Homo sapiens: one gene and its partners. The protein of the gene in region 2 interacts with the protein of the main gene of each other region in a pairwise test. Each region holds a gene or a part of one and is shown on either strand. Other genes may lie near its edges.

Region 1 (7,171 bases), on a different chromosome or scaffold from region 2:
CTGGGATCCTCAGCTGCCTTCCTGAAAAGAGAAGACATGAACATCTGCCTTACCGGAATGCAAGTGTGAGGACAAAACTAGTGCCTTGGAAACTTTAAAATACTATGCAAATGTAAGGCCTTGTTAGAGTTTAGAGATACCATAAAACATATCTATTACATGGCACGCTAAGGTTTGCCATGCTGGCCCATTCTACAATTTAGTGCTGAAATACCAACTCCAATGTGAATAACTGCTGAAAACACAGTTGCATTAGAGGCAAACACAAATATAACTAAATAAGAAAAAATAGCCCATAACAAGATGGTTGGATTTAAAATCAAAGCTTCCTCACAATCATGTAGCTTCAGATTTAAAACACTTGTAATTTTGCAGTTACATAAGCGTGTAATTAATGTTTTAAATGATAAAGCTCTGCATTCCGAATATCAGCCTGTGATTTAAGAGAAAAATGTTTCAGTCTGAAGTCATCTAAACTAACAGTAAGACAAGATTCTGAGCAGCACCTCCTCCTTCCTTCACATGTGAGAAATATACTTCTTATAAGAATTACTTCTATGAAAAGTAAGTTTATCAAGTTGAATACCTAAAAAACACTAAATGGCAACATTTCCCCAGTAAATATCTGTTTCAAGTAACTGGAAGCCATTAACACTGGTAAAAACACAGAATCCAAAAGAATTTTGGACGTTTTAGCAACACAATACTATGGCAACACGGCAGAGAAAATAATTCTGACTTTTAAAATAAGATAACGCACTGTACTTTCAGTTTAACTGTTCCTTAATTGAGTACAACCTAACTTTGATTCAGCTACTTTATTAGGAAAAATGCACTTGAGTCCACAGTCCAGAATATTTCCAATGCCACGGATCTCATGCAATGTATGAAGAAATTTCTTTCACAGAGATGACAGCCCAGCAGGCAATAAAAGATACATGTAAATCATCAGGCACAGGAGTACAAACTCAACTGCAGAACTGTTCAGAGGGCATAGAAATAAAACTTAATTTTTTTTCTTTTATTTAGGAATGCATGCCCATTCACTTTTTCACAAGCCCATTTTATTAAAGAAATAAAAATAAGCCTGCAATTAAAATAAAATGAGGGAGCTCCATAAGTCTATTTCTGTTCAACAATTCAAATATTCTTAAATTCTTGGAGACAGTAAAGAGTCTCTCCTCCACCATCGGTCAACCACACACACACTCTACTCTGAAGAACTGGTTGAAACAGGCAAAAACTGGAGGTCACTGTTTTAAAATATAGGTATCTATATACAAATAGAATATGTCTGCCTCATCTTTCACTTCCAACAATAAAAAAGCCAGGGCGAGCACTAAGAGCAGCAGATCCGATTCATCTAGGGAACCACAGACTGTCAGTGCACAGTAATTCCTGCAAAAGGTAACAGATCTGACCAGATCATGTTGCTGCCATTTCCCAGAGAAAAGACAGACCAGTGGCACCCACACCCATCTTCATCTGAAACACATATTCCAGGAAAAGTAGGAGACTGCTCCCAGGAAGGAAGGCTTAATTTACCGTGCATGCCAGCAGATGATTCAGGAAGCCACAGGAGGAAAAAGCCAGGGGAACACTGTCCCGGGTAGGCGTGCCTCCAGAAATCTCTGTATCCCTGACCCGCAGTACTTCCTAGGATCTTTCACACCCTGAGCTGGCTGGAGTCGTGTGAAAATGGCAAGGACTCCCTTCACCACTATTCCGAACCTCAAGCCAGCCACCAATGAGGGTCACCCAACCCAACGCCCTCCGGAACGGTGCTCTTTTGCCGGCCTCTTCTCCCCTACTGACTTCTCCAAGGGCCAGCCTGCAAGGCTTGGCATGGGCTGCCCATCCCCTGGGAGGGCTGACTGCCCCGCCAGGGCTGTTGGAGCCTGGACACAGGAGAGACAAAGGGCTGGGAGGGGGAACTGGGCTCCTCCCCTGGGACCACGGAGCTCCTCTCCTCTCAGGTGCTGGGGTCTGACCCCAACCCTCTTCCAAGGTCCCCAAACTTCGCTAACAATGCAAGCACCTGTTCCCTTCACCTCTTCTGCATTTGAGTCCCTCAAGTCCTTCCATTTTCCTCCAGCTTTTTCTCCAGTACCTTAGACAAACCAAACGCCCTACTTCCCCGAGTCCAACACGCTCCCCTTCCATGACATAATTCAACCTCGTTCCCAACGAAGCCCCCAGATGGTCGCTGTCCCCCACCCAGAAGTTTCCCCTGGGTGTGCCCGAGTCCCCAAAGATTTCCTTCAAGTCTCACCCATGCGCCCCAGCCTTCTCCTTCCAAGTCCCCAAAATTCACATCAGGGTCTTCCCCTAGGTGTCCCACAGCCTCCCAGGTCCCCGTGCAAACGACCCCGGGGGCCACCCGGGCCTCCGTCTCCGCCGCGTCCGCTGACAGCAGAGGGCACGGAGGGGCCCCCTGGGCCCCCGCGTTTCCACCCGGCCCCCAACCGCCGCCGGCCGGCAGTTAACGGCCGGCGCCTCACCTTGGTTCACCAGGCGCAGGGCGTGCGTGAAGGAGGGGTCCAGGGAGTCCTTCTCCGCCATCAGCTCGGGCAGGTACTTCTCCTCCATGCTCGCCGGCCGCCGGGCCCGGGATGTGGACTCCAGGCGCACGGGGGGCGGCGCCCGGCAACCCCCGACCCCGCCCGCGCCCCCAGCGGCGGGGACCCGGGGGCCAGACGCGGCAGCAGCGGCCAAGCCGGGCGGTCGGCCGGAAGGCGGCGGCGGCGGCACGGGGGCGGGAACCGACCGCTCAGCCCCGATCCCCGGTGGCCGCCGAGTACCCAGCGCCGGCGGCCCCCGCGCTCCGGGCGCGGGCCGAGGAGGAGCGGGCGCGGGCGGCGCGGTTAGGCGGGCCCTCGGGCCGAGCGGGCTGCGGCGCCCCTGAGGCAGTCCACGGCGATCCCCGCCAGTCCCGCCAGCACCTGCCAGCACCCGAGCCACAGCTGCGACCTGCACGCCGCGCGCCGCCCCGCGCACTCTGAGCCACCGCGCCGAGCGCCCAGCGCCTGCCGCCGGCCCCGCCCCGCCCGGCTCCGCCCCGCCCCGCCCCGCGCCCGCCGCCCCGCCCTGCCGCGCCGCGCCTGCGCACTGGCGCCCACCGCCCCGCCGCCCGCCGCCTCCTGGGGCCGCTCTCCACTGCGAGTCCGCCGGGACTAACCGGGCGTTTGCGAGAGGGGGTGCGTCCAAGGGCCCCTCCCGCGTGTCCGGCGCCCACCTTTGGCCCTGAGGGCCGAGTGGGGAGCCCCACGACGCTATTACAGCCTTTCAGATGCACGGACTGGGAAACTGGGGCTCAGAGAAGTCAAGTGGCTCGCCCAAGGTCACCCAGCGAGTGATCCTGGGAAGAGGGGACAAGGGCCGAGCTGGAGCTGGGAAGGGCGCCCCAGTTCGCCCCAGTCGCGCTCTGAGGAATAGCAGCGGGACCGCCCTGCTCTCTAAAGCTTCCTGGACTTCTCTAAGTTATGTCGCGTTGCTGTCCCCTCGTACTTATAAGAGAGTAAGGCAGGGGCGCCGTCCTTTCTCCGCGCCTGAGCTCAGAGCGCCAACCTCCTGAGATCCGCCAGCTCAGAGGTCGGTTACATAAAAGCGCGTGCCCTTCTGGGCGTCTTTGTCATCCCGACTTGCTCCTGGGTTGTCATTCTCTTAGGTCATAAACCGGCTGTGCCTGGACACAGCTGAGTGAGCCGCGTCTGAGCTCATCCGCTCCTGGGGAGAGGCCCTGGGACGCCCCGCCTGTCGGTGGCAATGCTCTCTGTCCCCTTCCGCCCACCCCCAACCCCCAGCAAATGCTCTCCAAGGCCATTTCAGATTTCCCGAGGCATGTGGAATAAACGTCCCCCAGGAAGGCGAAGGACTCCAGTCCTTGCCCTGCCATTTTTCCTGCCTTCAAACAGCCAGCTCAAGTCCCGGCCTCAATGTCACCTTCCCTGGACAGCCTCTCAGGACCTCCCTGGCAAAGCAAGTCACAAGTCCCTTCTCTGTGTCCCCCCAGCTTGGTCAGAGGTCATTCACAGACAGCTGTAATTCTGTTTTCAGTAGACCATGAGCATCAGGGACAGAGTTTGAGTTTTGTTTTTGAGGGGGAAGGTCACCAGTGTGTAGTACAGGGGGCAGGGATGGAGGGTACTGGAAATGTCTCTTGGAGGAATAAGTCAGTGGCATACCACTCTCAGCCAATAGCCTGAGGACAATCGCCACAGTCCCCCAGGCAGCCCCCCCGCACTCCCAATGCAAATGGAGGCAGCTTTACAAACCCGAGGGGAGTGGGAGGTGGTAGAAATCTTGGAAGCTCTAAGTCCCAGACCCGAGTACTCAACTGCCCTCACTCTCAAGGCTCCACTCCTCCCCCGGCTAAGGTGTCATTTCAGAGTCCCCAGTAAGAGTCTTCTTCATGGCTCTCTTCAGTCTCAACTTGCAAGAAGCAGAAAAATGGCACAGTTAAAAGCAAAGCCTCTGGGGTTAAACAGCCTGGATTTGGAATCATGGATCTGCTGCTCACTAGCTGTGACCTTGGGCAAGTTTCTTCACCTCAGGGTCCTCATCCGTCAAGTGGAGATGACAACCAAACTTATTTCATAAGAAGTTCATGAGAATAAATATGTTAACTCATAATGAAATACCCAAAACAGCACTCTGCCTATCGGAAATGCTGAGCTGATCTTTGCTTTGGGTTTTTTCCGGCTGCAAGGCTGTCCTCTGGGCCTTCTGAGCCTCCCTCGCCTTCCCTTCAGCTGTAACTCCAGGGATGCTGGGCAGACACCCATCTGTGGACTCCTCACTGCTGGTCGTGGTGCTTCGCCCCGGCCTGGCCAACTGAGTGAAGGACCTGTGACTGTCGCACCTCTGTTTCTGACCTGGGCCCAGCGTCAGGCTTGTAGGCTGCTTGTGGCTGCTCTTCTCAATCCCAGGTCTATGACTGGCCTCTCAGCCCCAGAAACAAAAAGGGCACTTCCCAAACCACCCTCACCCAGAAGGGCAGGAGTCTGGATGCCTGCATCCTGGCTGCTACCTGCCTCACTATGCCACTTTGTTAATTAACTTAGAGCCTGAGCTTCCCAGTCCACACCCCCAAAACCAGGGGTATGCCAGTAGTCCTGCTGGACAACAGGAGGGACTCATAGGACAATGTCTTTTCCTTTTACAACTGAAGGGAAGCATACACCTCTGGCTTATATTCCTGTGTCACAGAACTTACATTCTATGGTAGGGTTCCCTGACAGCTGCTTGTAAAGGGGGAAAGGGGGACAGAGAATGTTTGGGATGAGGCTAGAAGAGGACAATGGGGCCTGGATGCCCAGCGGCTTCATTGGAACACTTAGACTCTCTCTCTTCTAACAGCTCTTCTCCCTCTGTGTCTTCCATTCAGACCATCTGCCCCGGTGACAGTCCAGACCTTGAGTAATCACTATTTTTATTAAGTGCCAGCCCTATGTTTATGACTTAGGATTCACTATGGTTCTCGCAACACCCTGTAAGGAAAATTCTATTGATCACCACTTACAAAGAAGGAAACTGAGGCCCGGGACAGTTTAATACCACCTTGCTTAAGGCTCCACAGCTGTCGGCGGGGATCCCAGGCCCACCTGACTCTCTGACCCTTCTTTCTCTCCCTTCCTGGTTCTGCCTTCCCAGGTAGCAATCTGGAACACTCCTGACTGGCTCTTCATCCCTCCCTGATCTGAGTTGGCAGTCAGTCCACCAGCAGCTGTGGAGGAGGGCTATGCACTGGGAAACTGACAGCAAGGGCACTGAATCTTCTGCTCCAGACCCTCCTTCTCCGAGAACCTTCCAAGAAGGCAGGTGCCAAACGCTGTGAGTGCTCATGCAGGGTCCTCCGGGGAGGAGGGAGATGAATGTCTCTGTGAGATGCTCAGGAAATTGTCCCCACCCACCAACCTGGCTGAGCCGTTGGCTGTGGGGCACCTCCATGCTGTGCTGCACACTCCGCTCATCTTCATGAGATCACCTTCCTGCAGGCGCTAACCCTCTGATTCTTTTGAAAAGGAGAAATCAGGTCTTGGGAAAGCCGGTGATTTTCCTACAAGCAGCTGCAGGTAGTATTCACACTCAGGTCTTTTGGCTTCCAGGCCAAAAGAGGTCTCTCTAGAATACACCAGTACTCACTGAGCACATACTATGTGCAGAGACTGCTCTGGGTACAGGGGACATAGCCATGGACAGAACAGACTTCTCCAAAGGCCCTTAAGGCCAGGGCACTGGGGCTGCTTACTCCATCTGCAGAGTTTGTGGTTAGACTGACCAGGCGCTCAGGTCTGGACGGGAAGCCCCGCACTGCAATAAGGAACTGTGGCTGCTCTTTCTTCTCACATCCAGGTCTGGGACTAGCTTCTCAGCCCCAGAGACAAAAGGGTACTTCCCAAACCCACCCCACTCAGTGACACTGGGCCATCTCTGAGAACACAGCAAGTCCCTGTGGCCCCAGCCCACTGCCATAGCGCTGTCTGCCAGAATCCACACCTGCCTCCTCTTCACCCACCTACTGACTCCTGGAGAGAGAAAGACAAGTCCTTGGCCTTTATGACACTAACTGCAATAAGTCAGACACAGCTGCAGCAAACTCAGTGTCATCAGAGGAGACACAAAATGTAGGGAGTGTGTCTATGAGGAAGTTTTCATATTTGCTGCTCACACTACAAGCTTCTCACTGCTGTTCACACCACAAGCTTCCTCTTCATTTTGTTTAAGAAAGGTGGATCCTATCCCAGTTACTCCAAAACTCTGCAGTGCCATACTGTGAAATCCTAATCCGACTGTACCAAAGGCCAGAGAGACCTCGGCTTGGCCCCAGCTGCCTTGCTTACTATCCTCCTCACAGGATCATTTTGAGGTTGAAATTGAAGCATTAAGCTCACATAGGCACCATGTGCATTTTAAAGCTTTTCCACTCTCTGTCCTCTCCACCAGCATTGTTTGTGCTCCTGTTCACACTTAACACATCTGGTCCTCGTCATCTGTGGACCCCTTTGCCTTCACACTGTCCTCAGAGCCTGCTCAGCTGCCCAGCCCCAGTGCCTGGTCCAGAGGTCAGTTCACAGCAAGCACTCAGCATTCATTCTGGATCCGTGTCTCCCAAAATGCAGTCCCGGAACAGCAATGCTACCCAGCCATCTGAGGCCAATTCATTTGTCAT
Region 2 (5,176 bases):
AAGACACGGCTCCAGGCCCTGCCTGGAGCCCAGGCCTGGTGTCTGTGAGCAGAAGCAGAGGCCAGGCAGCCCAAGGTGGGGCAGAGGCGCCGTGGAAGTGGCCCGCACTGTGCCTCTGGGCGGGGGTCTACTCCCTGACCTGGGAACCCATGACCTGGGGAGTGTTGACGTGTTTTTTTTGTCACTGCAGCTTAAGTGGTGAAAACTTATAAAAGCTGGGAGGAACTTGTGGGCTGCAGGACAGCAGGTTTGGAGGGGATGCTCGTGGCCTCTGGGTGGCCGCAGGGTGCTTGGAGTGCCAGGAAGATGTGTGGGTGGAAGGAAGGAAGGGGTGCGGTTTACTCCTGTTCCTAGTCCAGGACCAGCTTCAAACTGGCTCTATGGTGTCCCATCTGGTCAGGGCAACACCATCCATCACCACCATGAACCCTTAACTGCCTCAGTTGTGCCCTGTGCAGGCCCTGCCATCTAGAAGGATATCTATGGCTCCGAATGTCAGGAAAAACGCCACACACACAGCTGAGTGAGAAAGGCACAATTTATTGGTTACGCAGACTTCCATCATGGGAATGTGGGGTGCATTCCCTTCTGCATTCACACACACCACTGGATTTAGCTCCCTACATTAATTCTGCTATGTTGAAAAAGCAACATAAGGAAAGACATCACCCATCTATTCTCCTAATAACCAAGGAAGCAGAGCTGAAAGCCACAGAGATAGGAAGAAAAGGCTGCACTATTTCAAGAGCCTGGAACCAAGAGGCCCACCCTCCCTGGCAGCCAGGCTGGAGAGCACGGCTTTCGGGAGCAACAGCAAAGACTCTTCTACCAGCACGATGGAATACATGTTGGGGGGCTTGGCTTAACTGTGGCTGGTGATGGCTGCCCACCTCGAGGAGGGCACAGGGAACCTGGCACAGGCCTTGGCATCTCTAGCCCAAGCTGAGGCCAGATCTCTCCACTGGAGAATAGGAGCTGATTTCCTGCTCCTTCCAACCAAAGAACTGAGAAGCCAGGTAGATCCCTGCTCTCAGCCTAGCCATGCCGGAACCCGCGGGACTTTAGCTAAAGCAGCTTGTGTCACTGAAGCTGGACAGAACAGGCTTCTTGTACCCTAAACAAGCTACCCAGACTCTTCAGCTCCTTAAGGCCGAGCCCTTGTCTCACTCCAGGAGGGCACTGGGCTTCTTAATGCTTTCACCCCTCCGAACACACACCGTTTTAAACTGGTGGGTTTGGGCACGTGGTTTTAGGTGGCTAGAGCCTCAGCTCTCGAGGTCATCCTGATATGACGAATGTTCGTAAAGCACTTAGCACAGCACTTGGCACATCATGAGTGTTCGATCCATGTGGCCATTATTATTATTAATATTATTATTATCTATATCTCCACCCTCAAATCGGCGCTGCAGTTCCTTTCTTCAGAATGGCGCCCTCAACGAGGCACTGGGGTCCCAAGTACCAAGAGCGAGCTGGGGACCCAGACTGTTTGTTGCCCGTCTGGTGTGCGTTTTTCTTCCAGCCTCAGCACTTGGTGCTAAGTCTCACAGGCAGTGAACTCTGTGGGCCACACAGAAGCTAGGCCCTTTCCTGAAAACACAAAGCCTTGCATAGGAAGCTGGGCAGGAGGAGCCAGCAGGAGGTCCCGGGAGAGGGTCCAGTGGCTTCACGCCGTTCCTCTGGGCTCCCGACTCAGTGGCAGCTCACTGAGGGCTTCACTGTGGGACAAGAACAGAAGGGCTGTCAGGGCTCATTCTCACCAGGCCATGTTGAACTAAGTGGCCCAGGTCCCTGCATGCTGTGGGCTAGGCCAGGCTTCCTTTAACGTGTAGCTGAGAAGAGCCAGCACTCACTGCTCTAAGTACTTTACCTGCTTATTTAAAAAAATTGTTTTTTAGAAATGGGGTCTTACTCTGTTGCCTAGTCTGGAGTGCAGTGGTGCAATCATAGCTCACTGCAGCCTTGAATTCTTGGGTTCCAGCTAGCCTCATGCCTCAGCCTCCCCAGTAGCTGGGACTACAGGTGCATGGCACCACACCCAGGTACGTACCATATATATATATAAAATATATACACATATGTAATATGTATAGTATATATATATGAAATGATATGTAATGGATATCAATGTAAATACATAAATATAAATATATAATTTCTATATAGATGATAATACATGGTAATAATACATAATAGCCTACAATGCAATTCTCCTTCTAAGTCTATGAGGTAGGTACTATTAACAGCCCCTTTTTACAGATGGGTAAACTGAGGCTCAAGGCACAGAGCCAGGAGGTGGGAGGGCTGGGATTCAAATCCAACATAGCCTGACTGTTCTCTTTTTTGAGATGGAGTCTCACTCTGTCGCCCAGGCTGGAGTGCAGTGTTGCGATCTCGGTTCACTGCAACCTCCGCCTCCTGGGTTCAAGCAATTCTCCTGTCTCAGCCTCCCGAGTAGTTGGGATTACAGGTGCACACCACAATGCCCAGCTAATTTTTGTATTTTTAATAGAGACAGGGTTTCACCATATTGGTTAGGCTGGTCTTGAACTCCTGACCTCAGGTGATCCATCCACCTCGGCCTCCCAAAATGCTGGGATTACAGTCATGAGCCACCACGCCCGGCCTGGAGTCTGTTCTTAATCACTGTTAGTTTTGCTCAAAAAATTTTTTATTTTACATGAAGGAGAGGGAAAGTGTGCTGAATTCTCCAAAATATTGGGAAATTTTCAAGTATGAATGCGACTTAATAATAACAATGAGGCTGGGTGCAGTGGCTCATGCCTGTAATCCCAGAACTTTGGGAGGCCCAGGCAGGCAGATCACCTGAGGTCAGGAGTTCGAGACCAGCCTGGCCAACATGGTGAAATCCCATCTCTACTAAAAATACAAAAATTAGCCAGGCATGGTGGCAGGTGCCTGTAATCCCAGCCACTCGGGAGGCTGAGACAGGAGAATCGCTTGAACCCAGGAGGCGCAGGTTGCAGTGAGCCGAGATCACACCACTGGACTCTAGCCTGGGCAACAAAGAGTGAAACTCCGTTGTTGTTGTTTTTTAATTTTTTTTTTTTTTTTTTTTTGAGACGGAGTCTTGCTTTGTCACCAGGCTGGAGTGCAGTGGCGCAATCTCGGCTCACCACAACCTCTGCCTCCCAGGTTCAAGCGATTCCCCTGCCTCAGCCTCCCAAGCAGCTGGGACTACAGGCGTGCGCCACCATGCCCGGGTAATTTTTTGTATTTTAGTAGAGACGGGGTTTCACCATGTTGGCCAGGATGGTCTCGATCTCCTGACCTCGTGATCCACTGTGCCTGGCGAAACTCAGTTGCAAAACAAATTTATAATAACAATGAGATATAAATGATTTAGGCTCCTTTTCTTTATGGAATCTTCTTCCTCTGGGACTGACACTAGACTAAGTTTATCCACAGCCCCGCCTTTCTTCCTTTTAACAACTGCTGCAGAGGCAATGCAGGGTCAGGGATGTGTGGGACAGGCAGACCTGGGTTCAAATCCTGACTCTCCCTTCTCATGGAGCAGTTCCCAGGACCATCACTCGCATGTGTGCACATGCATGCGTTCACACATGCACGCACATATGCATGCGTGCACACACACATGCACACACATATGCATAGGTACACACATACGCACTCACGCATGCACACACACACAAATGCACACGAACCCACGTGTGGCGCAGCGCACCTGCATGGCAGTCCTGCCTAGAGGCCCTGGTGGCCCCTCCTCCGGCCGGTGCTTGCCGTGATGCGGGAGCTCGGTGTTGTCGCGGTAGTCGCGGCCCTTGGAGTGCTGGAGGTGCAGCACCGCCGGGCTCTTGACTGGCAGCGGCGGCCGCGGCGTCGGGGTGGGCGGGGTCTGCTGGTTGATTTCCGATCTGGAAGGCTTGATGGGCCTCTTGGCCGGCACCGGGGCCTGGGAGCTGACCGGGGTCTTGGGCTTCCCTTGGCTCTTGTCCCCGCCGGCCGCCCTGCCCTCGGCAGAGGATGAGCACGTGAAGGAGCGCAGCCGGGGCGCGGGCACCTGCTTGCCGGGCCCCTCGCCGCGATCAGCCTCCTGGGCTTTGGTGAGCACGATGCTGGGCGACAAGATGCCGGGTTCCGGGCAGGGCGGGGGTTCCTTCCGCGGCATTTTGGGGGATTCCTGGTCCTTCCTGGGAGCAGGCTTAGGGAAGGAACTCAGGGACCCATACAGGGGGTTCTCAAACATCTCGGGCTTCGTCAGCGGCAGGTCCTCCTGAGGCAGCGTGTCCCCTGCGTTCTTCCCCAGGTCACTGGGCCTAGAGCCAGGGACAGAGCAGGGAAGACACATGTCCAGGGGAGAAGACATGGGAGCATGGCTGCTTAATGGCTCTGGGTCTTTCTTTGGGGTGATACAAATGTTTCTGAACTAGATAGAGACATGTAACATTGCAAATTTACTGAATGGCACCAAATTGTTTTGTCTTGTTTTGTTTTAGAGACAGAGTCTCGCTCTGTCACCCAGGCTGGAGTGCAGTGGTGCGGTCATGGCTCACTGCTGCCTCAACCTCTTGGGCTCAAGCAGTCCTTCCCCTCAGCCTCCCAAGTAGCTGAGACTACTTGGGAGTAGCTGGGAGTAGCTAGGAGTAGCTGGACATTGCTGGGAGTAGCAATGCCTCCAGGCCTGGCTAATTTTTTAGTTTTGTTTTATTCTGTAGAGATGGGGAGTCTCACTATATTGCCCAGGCTGGTCTTGAACTCTTCGCTTCAAGCAGTCCTCTCACTTTGGCCTCCCAAAGTGCTGGGATTATGGGCATAAGCCACTGTGCCCAGCCTAGCAAACTGTTCATTTTGAAATGGTTAATTTTATGTTAAGTGAATTTCACCTCAAGTGAAAAAAAGGAAGAGGAAACAGTACTGTGTTCATCATACGTTGTCCTCAAAGACAGCCTCAGTTCTGGCCTGGGACCTTTTCCACTATAAAACCTGTTCACATCAGAGCATCTGTGAGCAAGGGGCATGGCACTGGAGGATTTGTGGGAGAAATGAAGTGAGAACTTACATGGCACCTCAGTATCAACCCCTCATCCTCATCAGATGAGCCTGCTCTCCACAGCCCCTTCCCACCTCCCCAGTCAACAGGCCTCCTTTCCCGGTTCCTCCCATCCCCACCCCGCAGCCTCTCCTCTGACTCCAG
Region 3 (7,000 bases), on a different chromosome or scaffold from region 2:
AAGCTTTCAAAGGGAGAAAATTACTTCACCGAAGATTACAGTCCAGCCCTCCTCTGGAGCTGGGAGGTACTTATTTTGACTTGCATGTGATTCTAAGACAGCCCATTTTTTGGCAGTGAGCTGTGTGAGGCCCAAACCAGGGCCATTCTGATTATGGGGTGGGGCAAGCCAGAGAGCTAAGCAGCAGGCTTTTTTCTTTTTTTCCCTTCCAAAGCTGTTGTGACACATATTGAAAATTAATTATCTGAAGACAAAGTACAAAGCAAAACCTCCCAACCAATGGTCTTATACATGAAAGCTAAATGTATAAAATCCAAGAGAGTGGGGAGCGTGCATTAATTGGATATATGTGATGATGATAATGATGATGATAATGATGATGGTGATGGTGATGATGAGGGTAGCTAGCATCTATTAGGTGCTTTCTATGTGCTATACACAGTGCTAAGAGCTTCACATATATCACTTTATTTAGTTCACATAATAACCCTATGAGGTGGACACTATTTTTATCCTTATTTTTCAAATGAAGAAAATAAGATAGAGAATAATTATAAAATCACAGCAGTGTCACATAGCCAGGAAGTGGTGGAGCCAGATGCTGAACTCAAACAATGTTGTTCCAGAACCTAGATATTTTTTTTAAGCTGAATTTTAAGCTGATTACTCAGTGTCTGTCTCTGCGCTAGATACTCAACATAAACTATCTCAGTTACCATTATGGAGAATATAAGCCCCTTCTAGCAGATGAAGAAACCAAGACTCAAATTTTGGTTCTTGCCCAAGATTTCCCACTATTAAGTAGCTGAGTTAGGATTTAAACTCAAGTCCAAATCCTGAGTTCTTCCCACACTACTATGCTATGTCCATTTACAGCTCAGCTGTGGCTTGGGGTACTGGACAGAGCATTAAATGTGGAACAGACCAAAGCCCCATGAAACAGTTTGGCTTGTAGGATTGTCTCAAGCTGAACAGGTTCATAAAGATGAGGGTTTAATACATTGATCTGCAAATGGTGTAAGTCATCTTTGTTTTCTAGAAGAACTTCAATTTTAGGATGATGTTTGCTGTTATCCTGATGAATGGCTCTTGTCACCTCTAGTTTATTCACCAAATTTTTCAAGGCAAGGTTGAGCACGTGAAATACAACTTAGGCGGGGGGTAAAATACCTCGTGGGGAATCATCCCAAGGAGTCTGCCTATAGTCCCCAACTTTTCTTTTTCCTGAAACATTGACTTTGCTTTCAATATATCAACTCCCGAAGTAGCTTTGCAAGAGTGAACTTCTAAGTGAATCGTAGGTGGTTTTGCATGGCATGACATATTATTATGTGCTATTGCACTGATACAAAATGTGGCAACCTACACAGTGTGTTAGGTTCTTTAATAAAAATACCTGTTAACAAAATACACTTTCAAAATACCATATTAGCTTTCAGTAACTGTCTAACTTACGTGTGGGCTAAGACTAATTCTGAGGTAGCCTCAGAATCCATTTATGAGGTAGCCTCCGAATCCATTTATGAGTGGAGAAAACTGTTTACCATTTTAATGGTTTTGACCATGCTGTTCAGAACTTAAAAAAGGAGCCTTTTGGGAATGGCCTTGCAGTCCTGTGTGTTTATAGAAAACTAAGAAGGTATCTGAAAATTGAACACGTTTGTCAAGAAGTGACCTTAGAAATCATGTCTGGGTAACAAGGTGTACTTCTGTCTCCTAAGAAGGTTTGCTTCATCAGCTCCTCTTTCTTTCGATCAAATCAGATGTATTGAAATTCAAGTGCCAAAAGCCACTTCTAGTAAATGTAAGTACATCTCTCTCAAAGTAGCTGCTGATGGAATCTGAAGTGATTTGGTGGCAATCCACATGCTGCAGCACAGGTGCAAACAGCACAGCCTCAGAAGTGAGTGCTACACATCTCTGGGCTTTGAATTTCACATCAGAAAGGATGCAGGGTGCAGGGTCCTTTCTGGCTAGACGAAAAGGGCTTCCTCTGATCTTACATCTCGATCAATCTTATTTCAAGCACTGCTTGTTTTTGCTTCTTAGTCTGGCTTCTCTGTGTGTTTGATTGGTGACCTCTTTAGATCTGCAGACTGTAGGCAAATGCAGTGACATTTTGCTTAAAAGATTAAAGCATCTGGACCATGGCTCACTGAGAAATTATCAGGGTGGGCAGAATGTGTCCATCTCAAAATGTTGATGCTTCCAGAAACTAAATGCATGCTAAGTAGCATGGACCATGCCTCATTCTATCACCACCAACCACGCAGAACATATTATTAATAAAATAATATGATCAGTTCCCACTTCTCACCCCTACCCCTACCTCCCAGGATATGTCAAAGGTCATGCATCCATGAGAAAAGGCAAAGTAGAACGTAGACACCAGGCAAAGGGACATGGTGCAGACACTGGTGATATAGCTCAGGCAAGAAGAAATAGTGCAAACATCAGGAATACAGTTCAGGGAAGGAGCGATGGTGCAAACATCAGCAATACAGCTCAGGCAAGGAGACATGGTGCAAACATTGAGGATGTGGCTTCAGAAGTGAAGAACAACCAAAAGGGAAAGCAGATAGCTTAAGGGTAAAGGAGATAAAAAGGACAGATACCTACCCAGACCTGCGCTATCTAGCTACCGGCCTGTGGACTTATATTATCACCACTGGGCTCCCCACTGGGCTCACCAAATGGATCACTGTTGGATGAGGCCTGTGATCCATCAGGCTAGAACACAAGAAGATAATACTTTTTTTTTTCTCTCTTTTCAAGCATTGAAAATATAAGACACCTGGATATACTTTCATGCAGCACAATCAGTTATTGTAAAGGAGGGTGCAACGGCATTTAGAGGATGCTACACCACAAATGTGGACTTGTAGTAACAATTTAATAAAAAGGCAGTCCTTTTCAGCTGACTCATTTGAACACAAAAGAAAGCCCCTTTAGCAACCCCTTGAGAACTTATGAGATTGAGCCAGCATTCTTTTCTATGTAGGCTTCCTCATGCATTATCCATTTCAGTTACAGAGGTCTTAATTTTAAGGAAAAACACAAACAAATAACAAACTGGTCACTTACAGCTTCTTGCTCTTCGCTTTTGCTGGGACTTTCAAAGCCCTCTTCAAAGATGTCATCTGTGGTAGGATCACTGGCATGGGATGCAGATGATTTGGATGGAGAGCTCTGTCTAGGGGCTGGGGTTGGAGCTACACAGAGACCACAGAAAAAGAGACATCTTAAGTGCCTGGCTGCCATGAATGTATCCCAAAGAAACCTCAGGAATCTGCTTATATTGAAGTCAAATCTTAGGATTCCTCTTCCTATTTCCAGTGGAATCAGTTGAATATTTGAATTCTCTCTCTGTACGTATTGATCTTTCCTCTCACACATCTGACTTCAGGAAGGAGCTCGTCCACACTGATAGGTAAGGCAGTGGTTCTCAAAGGATGGTCCTTGGACAAGCAGCAGCAGTAGCATCTGGGAATTTGTTAGAAATGAAATTTTCTGACCCTACCCCAGATCTACTGAATCACAGACTCTGTGTTTGAACAACCTGCTACAGGTTATTCTGATGCATGATCAAGCTGAGAACTACTGGGCTATGGTTTGCTTTCTTCTTTCTGTGTTTCATCAGAGGGCACGTTATTGAGCGCCTTTCATGTGTCAAACACTGTTAGAAACTTTACAGACAATATCTCTAATCCTCATAAAACATCTTTGAGGTAGAGGTTATCCTAATTTGACAGGTAAGGAAAGTGAAGTTTGCTAATTTGCTCATGGCAACTGGTAGAACCAGATTCTGAATCCTGGCACATAGGAGGTATTCAATAAACACATGTTGAATAAAGAGAAAGTGTCTCAGTGATCTGGGAAAATGGATGTAGCTGATGGCAACTTCACAGCTGGTACTTGATTCTATAAGGACAAAGGATACGCATTTTCTGGGCTGACCCACCCACATCTCCTCTCATTTGTTTTAGAGGTTTAGAACAAATATGCCATTTGATACCACTCTTCTTTTAATAAATTCTAATTTGTCACTGAAAATACTGGTTACTGGCTAAGACCCAAGTGAGAGGGTGGCATGACTTCATTTAGCAGCTGAATTTTCCTAATGTTATAGAACTTAGAAATCAGACAGTGAATGATTGTAAAACTTAGTGCATACTTTTTACTCTGATGAATCTATATATAGAAAGATGATGCTATTTCCTAACTTATTATTTATAATGTGCCAATGAGTTGGACACTGTGCTAGGCACTTCCCATTCATTATACACCTTAATATAAATACCTGCAAGTTGTTATCATAACTTTTTTGTTTCCCAGATGGAGAAATTGCAGCTCAGGGAGGTGAGGTGTCTTGCGAAGGGTTAACACAGCTATGAAATAGCAGCACTGGCATTTAACAGAGCTCTGTCTGACACTATCCAGTCCAACTGTGCTTTTCTGTTTCTATTTGAGGTTCACTTTTGATCCAACCAATCCTCTTCCCAAAACATTCTTAAGGGGATACTGATGGGTCAGAGGATATAAAGACTGGTTCTAATTTTGTTCAAAATAAAACAGCAAGTTTTTGGAAAAAAATTTGCAATGAAATCTGTTTTGTTTCAGGAGATGACTATGGAACAAACTGTATTGAAAGTGGGTTTAAAGCTATATGCAAACACCCTGAAGGGTAGTAGATGTTTAATAAATATTAGCTTAATTAGATCCTGAATTGTATTTGAAGTGGATTTTTGCTTACTAAAGGTTGAGAACACAAGCTGAGTTGCCAGTTCTGGCAGGTATACTGCTCAGACTTACCTAATGAAATCAATGGAAAGCATAAGCAGGAGTTTATTTATGCAGGTGTCTTAATCTTTAGAAGGCTTTATAGGATGCTGCTAATACTCTAAAGCAGTGGTTCTCAGTCTGGGGCAATTTCATCCCTGGGGTACATTTGGCAATGCTTGGAGTCATTTTTCTCGACACTAGAGGAAGGGGATATACGTTTCTCTCATAGAGTGATTAGAGGCCAGCGTTGCTGCTAAACATCCTACAATGGGACAGCCTCTGAAACAAAGAATTATCTGGCCCAACATGTCCATAGTGCCGAGGTTGCCAACGATGCTCTAAAACATAACAGTAGCTAAGTCATCTCCATTTTGTTTATTTCATTCTCTATAACCTTTCCCAAATGCCTCTCATGTCCCAGGCACTAAGCTAGCATTATGAGAAGTGTAGGAATGATGGAGCCAGTTCCTGCCCTCAAAGAACTTAAACTCTCCTCTTTCATTTGTAGCTGGCACACAAGTCCATTGAAAGAGAGATGTTTGTTTTTAAAAAGATGCTTGCTTATTTATGCATGGCTGTCATTTCTTTAACATTTCATTTTTTATTCATTATTCCTCATTGAAACCCTGTGAGTCTGCATAAATAGAGATGCTGCCACTATGTAGATCATATGGCCTGAGTGCAAGTGGGTTGTTTATACACGTTAAGGGCATTCATTTTCAGAATAGCATTCTGAACCTGGCTGAAATGGCACAATCTAATTGTATTAACATTAGGGGTGTTTTTTTTTGACAGTTCACAGTATTGGCCATGCAGTGATCCATATCACCTGTGACAGTAATGAAACCGCCAAACTCACTGCAGCATGAGCCTTTTCTTTCCTCTTATCAGGTGTCAAGGCACAGGCTGAGTCATCAGAACACCTTCCCTGAATTGTGTCAAACAAGTGTACATGTGCTCAAGTGTATCTGGATTCTGATTTGGCTGCACAGTCACTGTTTTCCAGATGTTTGCAGAAGAAATATGAGCTGGAGGAGACTCACTGAAAGCTGGAACTAGAAGGATGCACACTGCTCATCCAAGCCAATTCACTTATTTTACCAATGATAAAACTGAGTCTCAGAGAAGTCATACGCTTGCCCAAAGACACAGCTTGTGGTGGAGGAGTCAACACCAGAACTCTGGTCCAGGACTGCAAAAAAACACTTAACATGTGCTAATAATGAGGATAAAAGATACTTCAAATTCTGGGAGTTCTATAATGTTTGAGCACATATACCATTGAATCCTTTTAATAACCCATCGCTTACACAGATGAGGAAACCAAGGCTCATAGAAATAAAGTGCTTTGCCAAAAGGCACAAAACTGGTCAGTAATAAATCTGATCTCCAGGTTCCCAGTCCAGAACTTTCTGCAGCACTATCTTTTTGTTCCCTTTAACTACCAGAAGCTTTAACCCAAAATGAGGCTTCAACTATAAAAGCTATTTAAGACCTTATGGCTGCGTATCTCTGCCCTAAGTTTTCTCTTGATCCTTATTTTATATTCTAATGTTTAAAACTTGTTCCCCAAATTTTTAAAGTTTGCATTCATTTTATTTCAATAAGCCACGCCAAAATCTGTGTGTCATAAGCTATCTATACGTAAATAAATGAACGAATGAATGAGCAAACAAACAAAATCTTAAGAGGCAGAGTAACATGGTGGAAAAATACCAGGCTTACATTCAATTCAATACCACTTTGTCTATTGTCTTCATCTTTGAGCCTCACTTTCATTATCTGTCAAACAGGTCTAACAAAATTTATCATTAAGCATTATTATAAGTCTAAAAATAAACATGGAACATATGAAGAAGGTTTGTATGTTATCAGTGGTATCTAAATTGGCAGCTCATAGTAGTATTACTAGTAATAATAATATAAACAAAGAAGCCTGATTAATGCAAGTGAGATGAGTTATTTGACTCCAGAAACCCCGCCTCCAGACATGAGTTACGGCTCTCATTGGGTTTTATGTCTTAAGTGAGGGGCACTCACGTGAGTTGGTCGATGGTGTGGTAGAAGTCACAGGGGTCAAATTCAACTGGGAGATGTCAAAGTCATCACAGTCGTCTGTATCCTGTGCCACCCCGACTTTGTTGAAGTAACTGGAGAAGGCCTCTGAGGTACAGGTGAGGGAGGGCTGGTCGGGTTTGCGGGAGGGCACGGGCGGAGG

What was found. The genes of interacting proteins can lie anywhere in the genome.
Region 1: the proteins of INPP5D (region 2) and KHDRBS3 interact in binary tests that used the Homo sapiens proteins (3 or more experiments, as listed by UniProt).
Region 3: the proteins of INPP5D (region 2) and DAB1 interact in a two-hybrid assay, tested with the Homo sapiens proteins (one study listed by BioGRID).

The regions. Positions count from the first base shown.
Region 1 is NC_000008.11:135,453,285-135,460,455, reverse strand, and holds the start of KHDRBS3 (KH domain-containing, RNA-binding, signal transduction-associated protein 3), read right to left. Parts: upstream 3,001-7,171; 5' UTR 2,590-3,000; coding exon 2,502-2,589; exon of another isoform or gene 2,481-2,501; intron 2,424-2,480; exon of another isoform or gene 2,277-2,423; coding exon of another isoform or gene 2,273-2,276; intron 1,913-2,272; exon of another isoform or gene 1,553-1,912; coding exon of another isoform or gene 1,546-1,552; intron 1-1,545. UniProt on the Homo sapiens protein: RNA-binding protein that plays a role in the regulation of alternative splicing and influences mRNA splice site selection and exon inclusion. Binds preferentially to the 5'-[AU]UAAA-3' motif in vitro.
Region 2 is NC_000002.12:233,203,248-233,208,423, reverse strand, and holds the end of INPP5D (phosphatidylinositol 3,4,5-trisphosphate 5-phosphatase 1), read right to left. Parts: intron 4,299-5,176; coding exon 3,707-4,298; intron 1,719-3,706; coding exon 1,716-1,718; coding exon of another isoform or gene 1,667-1,715; 3' UTR 521-1,666; downstream 1-520. UniProt on the Homo sapiens protein: Phosphatidylinositol (PtdIns) phosphatase that specifically hydrolyzes the 5-phosphate of phosphatidylinositol-3,4,5-trisphosphate (PtdIns(3,4,5)P3) to produce PtdIns(3,4)P2, thereby negatively regulating the PI3K (phosphoinositide 3-kinase) pathways.
Region 3 is NC_000001.11:57,008,061-57,015,060, forward strand, and holds part of DAB1 (disabled homolog 1), read right to left. Parts: coding exon 6,823-7,000; intron 6,638-6,822; exon of another isoform or gene 3,213-6,637; coding exon 3,085-3,212; exon of another isoform or gene 2,731-3,084; coding exon 2,635-2,730; 3' UTR 2,620-2,634; exon of another isoform or gene 1-2,619. UniProt on the Homo sapiens protein: Signaling adapter of the reelin-mediated signaling pathway, which regulates the migration and differentiation of postmitotic neurons during brain development.